Homo sapiens: one gene and its partner. The protein of the gene in region 1 purifies or fractionates together with the protein of each later gene. This does not show direct contact. Each region holds a gene or a part of one and is shown in the gene's direction. Other genes may lie near its edges. The genes, in order: TLE6 and NLRP7.

Region 1 (3,809 bases):
ATACATATATGTATACACACACACATATTAAATATATGTAAATAGGCTGGGCATGGTGGCTCATGCCTGTAATCCCAGCACTTTGGGAAGCCGAGGCGGGCAGATCACCTGAGGTCGGGAGTTTGAGACCAGGCTAACATGGAGATACCCCATCTCTACTAAAAATACAAAATTAGTCAGGCGTGGTGGCCCATGCCTGTAATGCCAGCTACTCGGGAGGCTGAGGCAGGAGAATCGCTTGAACCCAGGAGGCAGAGGTTGCAGTGAGCTGAGATCGTGCTGCTGCACTCCAGCCTGGGCAACAAAACGAGACTCCATTTCAAAAAAAAAAAAAATACGTATATATATATATATATATACACACACACACACACACACACACACACACATATATATAATATATGTATTTATAACATATAAGATATCTATCAGCATATGTTTGCAGGAAGCAATGGCTGACGTAAAATACAGCACACCACCCGCCCGGCACTATTCCCCTTCCCTGCTTGAAGGGATTCCTGTAGACCTGCCTCAGAGCTCGGGTGGACTCAGGGTGGAAGAGGCAAGGGGAGGCCTAGGTGAGGCCAAGGGGAGGCCCAGGCGGACGGAGAAGGGAGGCTGAGGGCTGGGAGGGGCCGGCACTAGATCCTGTGTCTGTTTTCTGCCAACTTTGACACTCTGTGCAGGCAGAGATTTTTGGGTGGTGGCACTGTCCCTTTCATGCCCAAATGTAGTGACTGGTGTTTCCGGGGGCCCAAACCTCAGAGTCTTGACCTGATTGCCTCCCGATGTCCCTTCTGGCCAGGGACCTCAAGGGTTATCCTGATGGAGTCAAGAGTATCGTGGTCAAGGGCTACAACATCTGGACTGGGGGTCCGGATGCCTGTCTGCGGTGCTGGGACCAGAGGACCATCATGAAACCTCTGGAGTACCAATTCAAGTCTCAGGTGCGGAGGCCGGGATGGGGTCTGCTTGGCCAGGCATCCTCTGGTCCTCAGATTAAAAAATGAGGTTGAGGCCGGGCTCCGTGGCTCACGCCTATAATCCTAGCACTTTGGGAGGCCAAGGTGGGTGGATCACCTGAGGTCAGGAGTTTGAGACCAGCGTGGCCAACATAGTGAAACCCCATCTCCACTAAAAATACAAAAATCAGAGCTGGGCGCAGAGGCTCACACCTGTAATCCCAGCACTTTTGGAGGCCGAGGAGGGCAAATCACCTGAGGTCGGGAGTTCAAGACGAGCCTGACCAACATGGTGAAACCCCGTCTCTACTAAAAATACAAAATTGGCCAGGCATGGTGGCACATGCCTATAATCCCAGCTAGTCGGGAGGCTGAGGCAGGAGAATCGCTTAAACCCGGGAGGTGGAGGTTGTGGTGAGCCGAGATCGTGCCATTGCACTCCAGGCTGCGCAATAAGAGCGAAACTCTGTCTCAAAAACAAATGAGGTTGGCCAGGCACAGTGGCGTATGCCTGCAATCCCACCACTTTGGGAGGCAGAAGTGGGAGGAAGACTTGAGCCCAGGAGTTTGAGACCAGCCTGGGCAACATAGTGAGACCCTGTTTCTACAAAAAATAAAAATAAAAATTAGCTGAGCATGGTGGCACGTACCTGGGGTCGCAGCTAGTTGGGAGGCTGAGGTGAGAGAATGGCTTGAGCCCGGGGAGGCTGAGGCCACAGTGAACTGTGATCATACCAGTGACTGTAGTCCAGCCTGGGTGACAGAGTGAGACCCTGTCTCAAAAAAAAAAAAAAGGGGGGGAGGCGGGTGGGGGGGGGGGAGGATGAACTCTGGGAAGGAAAAAAGGTAGTGGTTCTAAGTCTCACTGATGCTCCAAACACAGAGATCATTAGAAATATTCTTTGCAGGCCGGGCGCAGTGTCTCACGCCTGTAATCCCAGCCCTTTGGGAGGCCAAGGCGGGTGGATCATTTGAGGTCAGAAGTTCAAGAACAGCCTGACCAACATGGTGAAACCCCGTCTCTACTAAAAAAAAAAAAAAAAAAAAAAAAAAACAGAATAATTAGCCAGGCATGGTGGCGCATGCCTGTAGTCCCAGCTACTCAAGAGGCTGAGGCGGGAGAATCGCTTAAACCCCAGGAGGCAGACGTTGTCGTAAGCCGAGATCGTACCATTGTACTCCAGCCCGGCAACAGAGCGAGACTCCGTCTCAAAATAAACACTCATGCTGTATCAGGTGCAAAGTAGGGAAGACTCTCCATTTTACACACCAACAAACTGAGGCACAGATACGAAGTTGCTTGTCCCAGGGCTGCACAGCTAGGAAGGGGTCAGTCACCCGGCCTCCAGGATAGGTCCCCAGGCTCCTGCCTGCTTCCTGGGCCAGGCTGGGACCTAACCAGGTTCCTCCCTCCCCACTGCCCATTACCTAGATAATGAGCCTGTCCCACAGCCCCCAGGAGGACTGGGTGCTGCTGGGCATGGCCAATGGCCAGCAGTGGCTGCAAAGCACCAGCGGGAGCCAGCGGCACATGGTGGGGCAAAAAGACAGCGTCATCCTGAGCGTCAAGTTCTCCCCCTTTGGTAAGCGGCTGGCGGAAGATGAGGGGACTCCCCTGCAGCCCCCAGCCTCCCACAAGACCCCACCTAATGCCAGCTCCCCACCCAACCCTCTAGGACACCTCAGAACCCTTCTGTAGCAGAAACCAATTTTGGGGATGCTCTTATAGTGGAATGAGGGAGGGAAGGGGGTGGGTGCCTGGGCCCTTCCTCCCCACCCGCCCCACCGGCGCGGTCCGCCTCCGCCCTTCCCCCTTCAGCCACTGGTGTCCCCATGAGCCCGGGGAGGCTGAGGCCACAGTGAACTGTGATCATACCACTGACTGTAGTCCAGCCTGGGTGACAGAGTGAGACCCTGTCTCAAAAAAAAAAAAAAAAAAAAAAGGTGGGTGGGGAGGATGAACTCTGGGAAGGAAAAAGGTAGTGGTTCTAAGTCTCGCTGATGCTCCATTTCTCCCAGGCCAGTGGTGGGCAAGCGTTGGAATGGACGACTTCCTTGGCGTCTACAGCATGCCGGCGGGGACAAAAGTGTTCGAGGTACTGCGGTGGGCTGGGGGCAGGACCCGGGGGTGGCCCCAAAGGGACCAGCCTGGGCAACACAGCAAGACCCTGTCTCCACAAAAAACTTAAAAAGTAGCCAGGTGTGGTGGCTCACGGCTTTAATCCCAGCATTTTGGGAGGCTGAGGCAGGAAGATCTCTTAAGTGTAGGAGTTCGAGACCAGCCTGGCCAACATAGTGAGACCCCATCTCTACAAAAAATAATTAGCTGAGCCGGGTGCGGTGGCTCACGCCTGTAATCCCAGCACTTTGGGAGGCCGAGACGGGCAGATCATGAGGTCAGGAGATCAAGACCATCCTGGCTAACACGGTGAATCCCTGTCTCTACTAAAAATACAAAAAATTAGTTGGGCGTGGTGGTGGGCGCCTGTAGTCCCAGCTACTTGGGAGGCTGAGGCAGGAGAATGGCGTGAGCCAGGGAGGCGGAGCTTGCAGTGAGCCAAGATTGTGCCACTGCACTCCAGCCTGGGTGACAGAGACTCCATCTAAAAAAATAATAATAATAATTAAAAACACTTTTAAAATTAAAAATAATAATTAGCTGAGTGTGGTGGTGCACACCTGCGGTCCCAGCTACTTGGGAGGCTGAGGCAGGAAGATTGTGTGAGTCCAGGAGGTCGAGGCTGCAGCAAGCTGAGATTGCACCACTGCACTCCAGCCTGGGCAACAGAGCAAGACCCTGTCTTTCTTTGAAGAGACGATGCTTCATGCTTGAGCTGACAGGTGGAG
Region 2 (4,352 bases), about 52 Mb from region 1:
ATTCTGTGCTGAATGCTTTCCACAACATACACTGTTTTATTTAAAAACAATTTTAGGCCAGGTGCGGTGGCTCATGCCTGTAATCACCTGACATCAGGAGTTTGAGACCAGCCTGACCAATATGGTGAAACCCTGTCTCTACTAAAAATACAAAAAATTAGTTGGGCATGGTGGCATGTGCCTGCAGTCCCAGCTACTTGGGAAGCTGAGGCATCAGAATTGCTTGAACCTGGAAGGCAGAGGTTGCAAGAATGGAGATTGCACCACTGCACTCCAGCCTGGGCCACAGAGCAAGACTCCATCCAAAAAAAAAAATTAAATATCAGTTATCTATTTATTTTTTTGAGACTGGGTCTCACTCTGTGGCCTAGGCTGGAGTGAGATGGCCAGTCACAGCTCACTGCAGCCTCAAACTCCTGAGCTCAGGTGATCCTCCCACCTCAGCCTCCTGAATAGCTGGGATTACAGGTGCAGCCCATCATGTATGGCTAATTTTTTTGTTTTTGTTTTTGAGACAGTCTTGCTCTTGTCACCCAGGCTGGAGTGCAATGGCGTGATCGTGCCTCACTCACCCTCCACCTCCCTAGTTCAAGTGATTGTCCTGTCTCAGCCTCCCGAGTAGCTGGGATTACAGGCACCTGCCACCACACCTGGCTAATTTTTTGTATGTTTAGTAGAGACAGAGTTTCACCACGTTGGCCAGTCTGGTCTCCAACTCCTGACCTCAGGTGATCCACCCGCCTCGGCTTCCCAAATTGCTGGGACTACAGGCATGAGCTACCACGCCCAGCCTATGCATGGCTAATTATTAAATATTTTTGAAGAGATGGCATCTTGCTATGTTGCCTAGGCTGGTATCAAACTCCTGGCCCCTAGGGATCCACTGGCCTAGGCCTCTCAGCCTGCTGGGATTTATAGGCAGGAGGCACCACAGTTGGCCACAAAGTAGACTTATTGTATTTGTAACTTAGGAAGTCACGGGAGTTTTTGTCCTCTTTTTTTTTAATTTTTATTTATTTTTGTTTAATTTTTTTTCTCTACAAGAGTTTTTAAAGCTGGGAGCCAGGTACCCTGCAAAACCCAAAATGTGTATTTCCTGTTCTGTCGCCTATCACACCTGGCCCGGGTGGTCTAGGAAGGGAATTGCACATTAATCTCACCTGGGGAGATTCAGCAAGCCGTAATTCTCCAAAGCCCACTGAAGCCCAATTACAGCCAAATCCCTGAGGATGGGGCCCAGGTGATGTCAAGGTGAGCCTGAGGTCAGTGGTTGGGAGCCACCCAATGTTAATCTCAGTGGGGCGGTTCCACCCTGGGCGGGAAAGCTGTCTCTCCACCTAGCGTACCAAGGGCCAGAGACCTCCCCTTTTTATCCGTTTCCTTTGCAGGAAACACAGGCTGGAAGCAAGACCTGACCTGAGGGAGGTGAGTGCTGGTTCTTGCATCGATTTCTTTGTCTTCTCGTTTAAGGGAGAAGAAGCTATTGGTTGAGTTTCCACCATAGCCCTTCCCAAGCCTTAATGGTTGGTGCGAGGATGCTGGAAGGATCTTTGATTTTTTTTTTTTTGAGACGGAGTCTCCCTCTGTCGCCCAGGCTGGAGTGCAGTGGCGTGATCTTGGTTCGCTGCAAACTCCGCCTCCTGGGTTCACCCGCCATTCTCCTGCCTCAGCCTCCTGAGTAGCTGGGACTACAGGCACGTGCCACCATGCCCAGCTAATTTTTGTATTTTTAGTAGAGACGGGGTCTCACCATGTTGGCCAGGCTGGTCTTGAACTCCTGACTTTAGGTAATCTGTCTGCCTCGGCCTCCCAAAGTGCTGGGATTCCAGGTGTGAGCCACCACGCCTGGCCTAATGTCTTAAGGACTTCTATTCAAATATAGTTTAGAGGAGTTCAGGAGATTGAGACTAGCCTGGGCAACATGGTAAAACTCTGTCATTACAAAAAAATATAAGGCCAGGCACAGTGGTTCATGCCTGTTATCCCAACACTTTGGGAGGCCGAGGCGGGTGGATCACTTGAGGCCAGAAGTTTGAGACCAGCCTGCCCAAAATGGTGAAACCCTGTCTCTACTAAAAACACAAAAATTAGCCAGGTGTGGTGGTGCATGCCTGTAATCCCAGTTACTTGGAAGGTTGAGGCAGGAGAATAGCTTAAACCTAGGAGGGGGAGGTTGCAATGAGCTGAGATCGCGCCACTGCACTCCAGCCTGGGAGACAGAGTGCGACTCCGTCTCAAAAAACAAAGAAGGCCAGACCTTGTGCTGTGTCCAAGCTACTTGTGGGGTGAGGTGGGAGGATCACCTGAGCCAGGAGGTGGGGGCTGCAATGAGGTGTGATTGAGCCACTGCACTCCAGCCTGGATGAGATGAAGACCCTGTTTAAAAAAAAAAAAAAGTAGGCTGGGCGCGGTGGCTCACGCCTGTAATCCCAGCACTTTCAGATCACCTGAGGCCGGGAGTTTGAGACCAGCCTGACCAACATGGAGAAACCCCATCTCTACTAAAAATACAAAATTAGCTGGGCGTGGTGGCACATGCCTGTAATCCCAGCTACTCGGGAGGCTGAGGCAGGAGAATCACTTGAACCCGGGAGGCGGAGGTTGCGGTGAGCTGAGATTGCGCCACTGCACTCCAGCCTGGGCAACCAGAGTGAAATGCTGCATCAAAAAAAAAAAAAAATGTAAATGGCCAGATGCGGTGGCTCACGCCTGTGATCCCAGCACTTTGGGAGGCCGAGGCGGGTGGATCAGCTGAGGTCAGGAGTTCGAGGCCAGCCTGGCCAACATAGAGAAACCCTGTCTCGGCCGGGCGCGGTGGCTCACGCCTGTAATCCCAGCACTATGGGAGGCCGAGGCGGGCGGATCACGAGGTCAGAAGATCGAGACCATCCTGGCTAACACGGTGAAACCCCATCTCTACTAAAAATACAAAAAAAATTAGCTGGGCATAGTGGCGGGCGCCTGTAGTCCCAGCTACTTGGGAGGCTGAGGCAGGAGAATGGCGTGAACCTGGGAGGCGGAGCTTGCAGTGAGCCCAGATCGCGCCACTGCACTCCAGCCTGGGTGACAGAGCAAGACTCCATCTCAGAAAAAAACAAGAAACCCTGTCTCTACTAAAAATACAAAAACTAGCCCGGCGTGATGCGGTGCGCCTGTAATCCCAGCTTCTTGAGAGGCTGAGGCACTAGAATCACTTGAACCTGGGAGGTGGAGGTTGCAGTGAGTCGAGATTGTGCCACTGCACTCCAGCCTGGGCAACAGAGGGAGACTCCATCTCAAAAAAAAGAAAAAAAGAAAAAAATGTACTTGGGAAAAAAAATACTTGGCCAGGCCTGGTGGCTCATACCTGTAATCCCAGCACTTTGGGAGGCTGAGGTGGGCAGATCACCTGAGGTCAGGAGTTCAAGACCAGCCTGGCCAACATGGTGAAACCCCGTTTGTACTAAAAATACAAAAAAAATTAGGTGTGGTGGGGCATACCTGTAATCCCAGCTACTTGGGAGGCCGAGGCAGGAGAATCGCTTGAACCCGGGAAGAGGAGGTTGTGGTAAGCCTCGCACCATTGCACTCCAGCCTGGGCGACAGAGCAAGACTTTCTGAAAAAGAAAAAAAAAACCCTGAATTTTTCTTTTCTTTTCTTTTTTTTTTTTTTTTTGAGAGGGAGTCTCACTCGCCCAGGCTGGAGTGCAGTGGCGCGATCTTGGCTCACTGCAAGCTCCGCCTCCCAGGTTCAAGCCATTCTCCTGCCTCAGCCTCCCAAGTAGCTGGGACTACAGGCGCCCGCCACCATGCCCGGCTAATTTTTTTTTTGTATTTTTAGTAGAGACGGGGTTTCACCGTGTTAGCCAGGATGGTCTTGAGCTCCTCACCTTGTGATCTGCCCGCCTCGGCCTCCCATAGTGCTGGGATTACAGGCGTGAGCCACCGTGCCTGGCCAAAAAACCCTGAATTTTTCTAAGTACATCAAGCGTTGTCACTGCAAAAACGAAAGGCAACTATATGAAGCAGTGGATATGTTAATTAGCTGGATTGTGGTAATCATTTCACTGTATATATAACATCGCTCCATGCTGTACACTTTGACAAGTAAACGTTGTATATATTACTTTAAAAATACTTAAAAAATAGAGACAAGGTCTCCTTGTGTCGCCCAGGCTGGTCTGGAACTCCTGGGCTCTCATGCTCTTCCTGCTCCATCCTAAAATAGGATATATGTAATTATACCTCACTGAAGGGGTGGCCTGCCCCTCCACACCTGTGGGTGTTTCTTGTCAGGTGGGACGAGAGACTGAGAAAAGAAAGAGACACAGAGACAAAGTACACAGAAAGAAAAGTGGGCTCAGGAGACCCGC

The links.
Region 2: the proteins of TLE6 (region 1) and NLRP7 purify together in Homo sapiens (co-immunoprecipitation; one study listed by IntAct). This does not show direct contact.

Annotation. Positions count from the first base shown.
Region 1 is NC_000019.10:2,991,038-2,994,846, forward strand, and holds part of TLE6 (transducin-like enhancer protein 6), read left to right. Parts: intron 1-805; coding exon 806-947; intron 948-2,394; coding exon 2,395-2,545; intron 2,546-2,981; coding exon 2,982-3,058; intron 3,059-3,809. UniProt on the Homo sapiens protein: Component of the subcortical maternal complex (SCMC), a multiprotein complex that plays a key role in early embryonic development.
Region 2 is NC_000019.10:54,944,542-54,948,893, reverse strand, and holds the start of NLRP7 (NACHT, LRR and PYD domains-containing protein 7), read left to right. Parts: upstream 1-1,363; 5' UTR 1,364-1,425; intron 1,426-4,352. UniProt on the Homo sapiens protein: Inhibits CASP1/caspase-1-dependent IL1B secretion.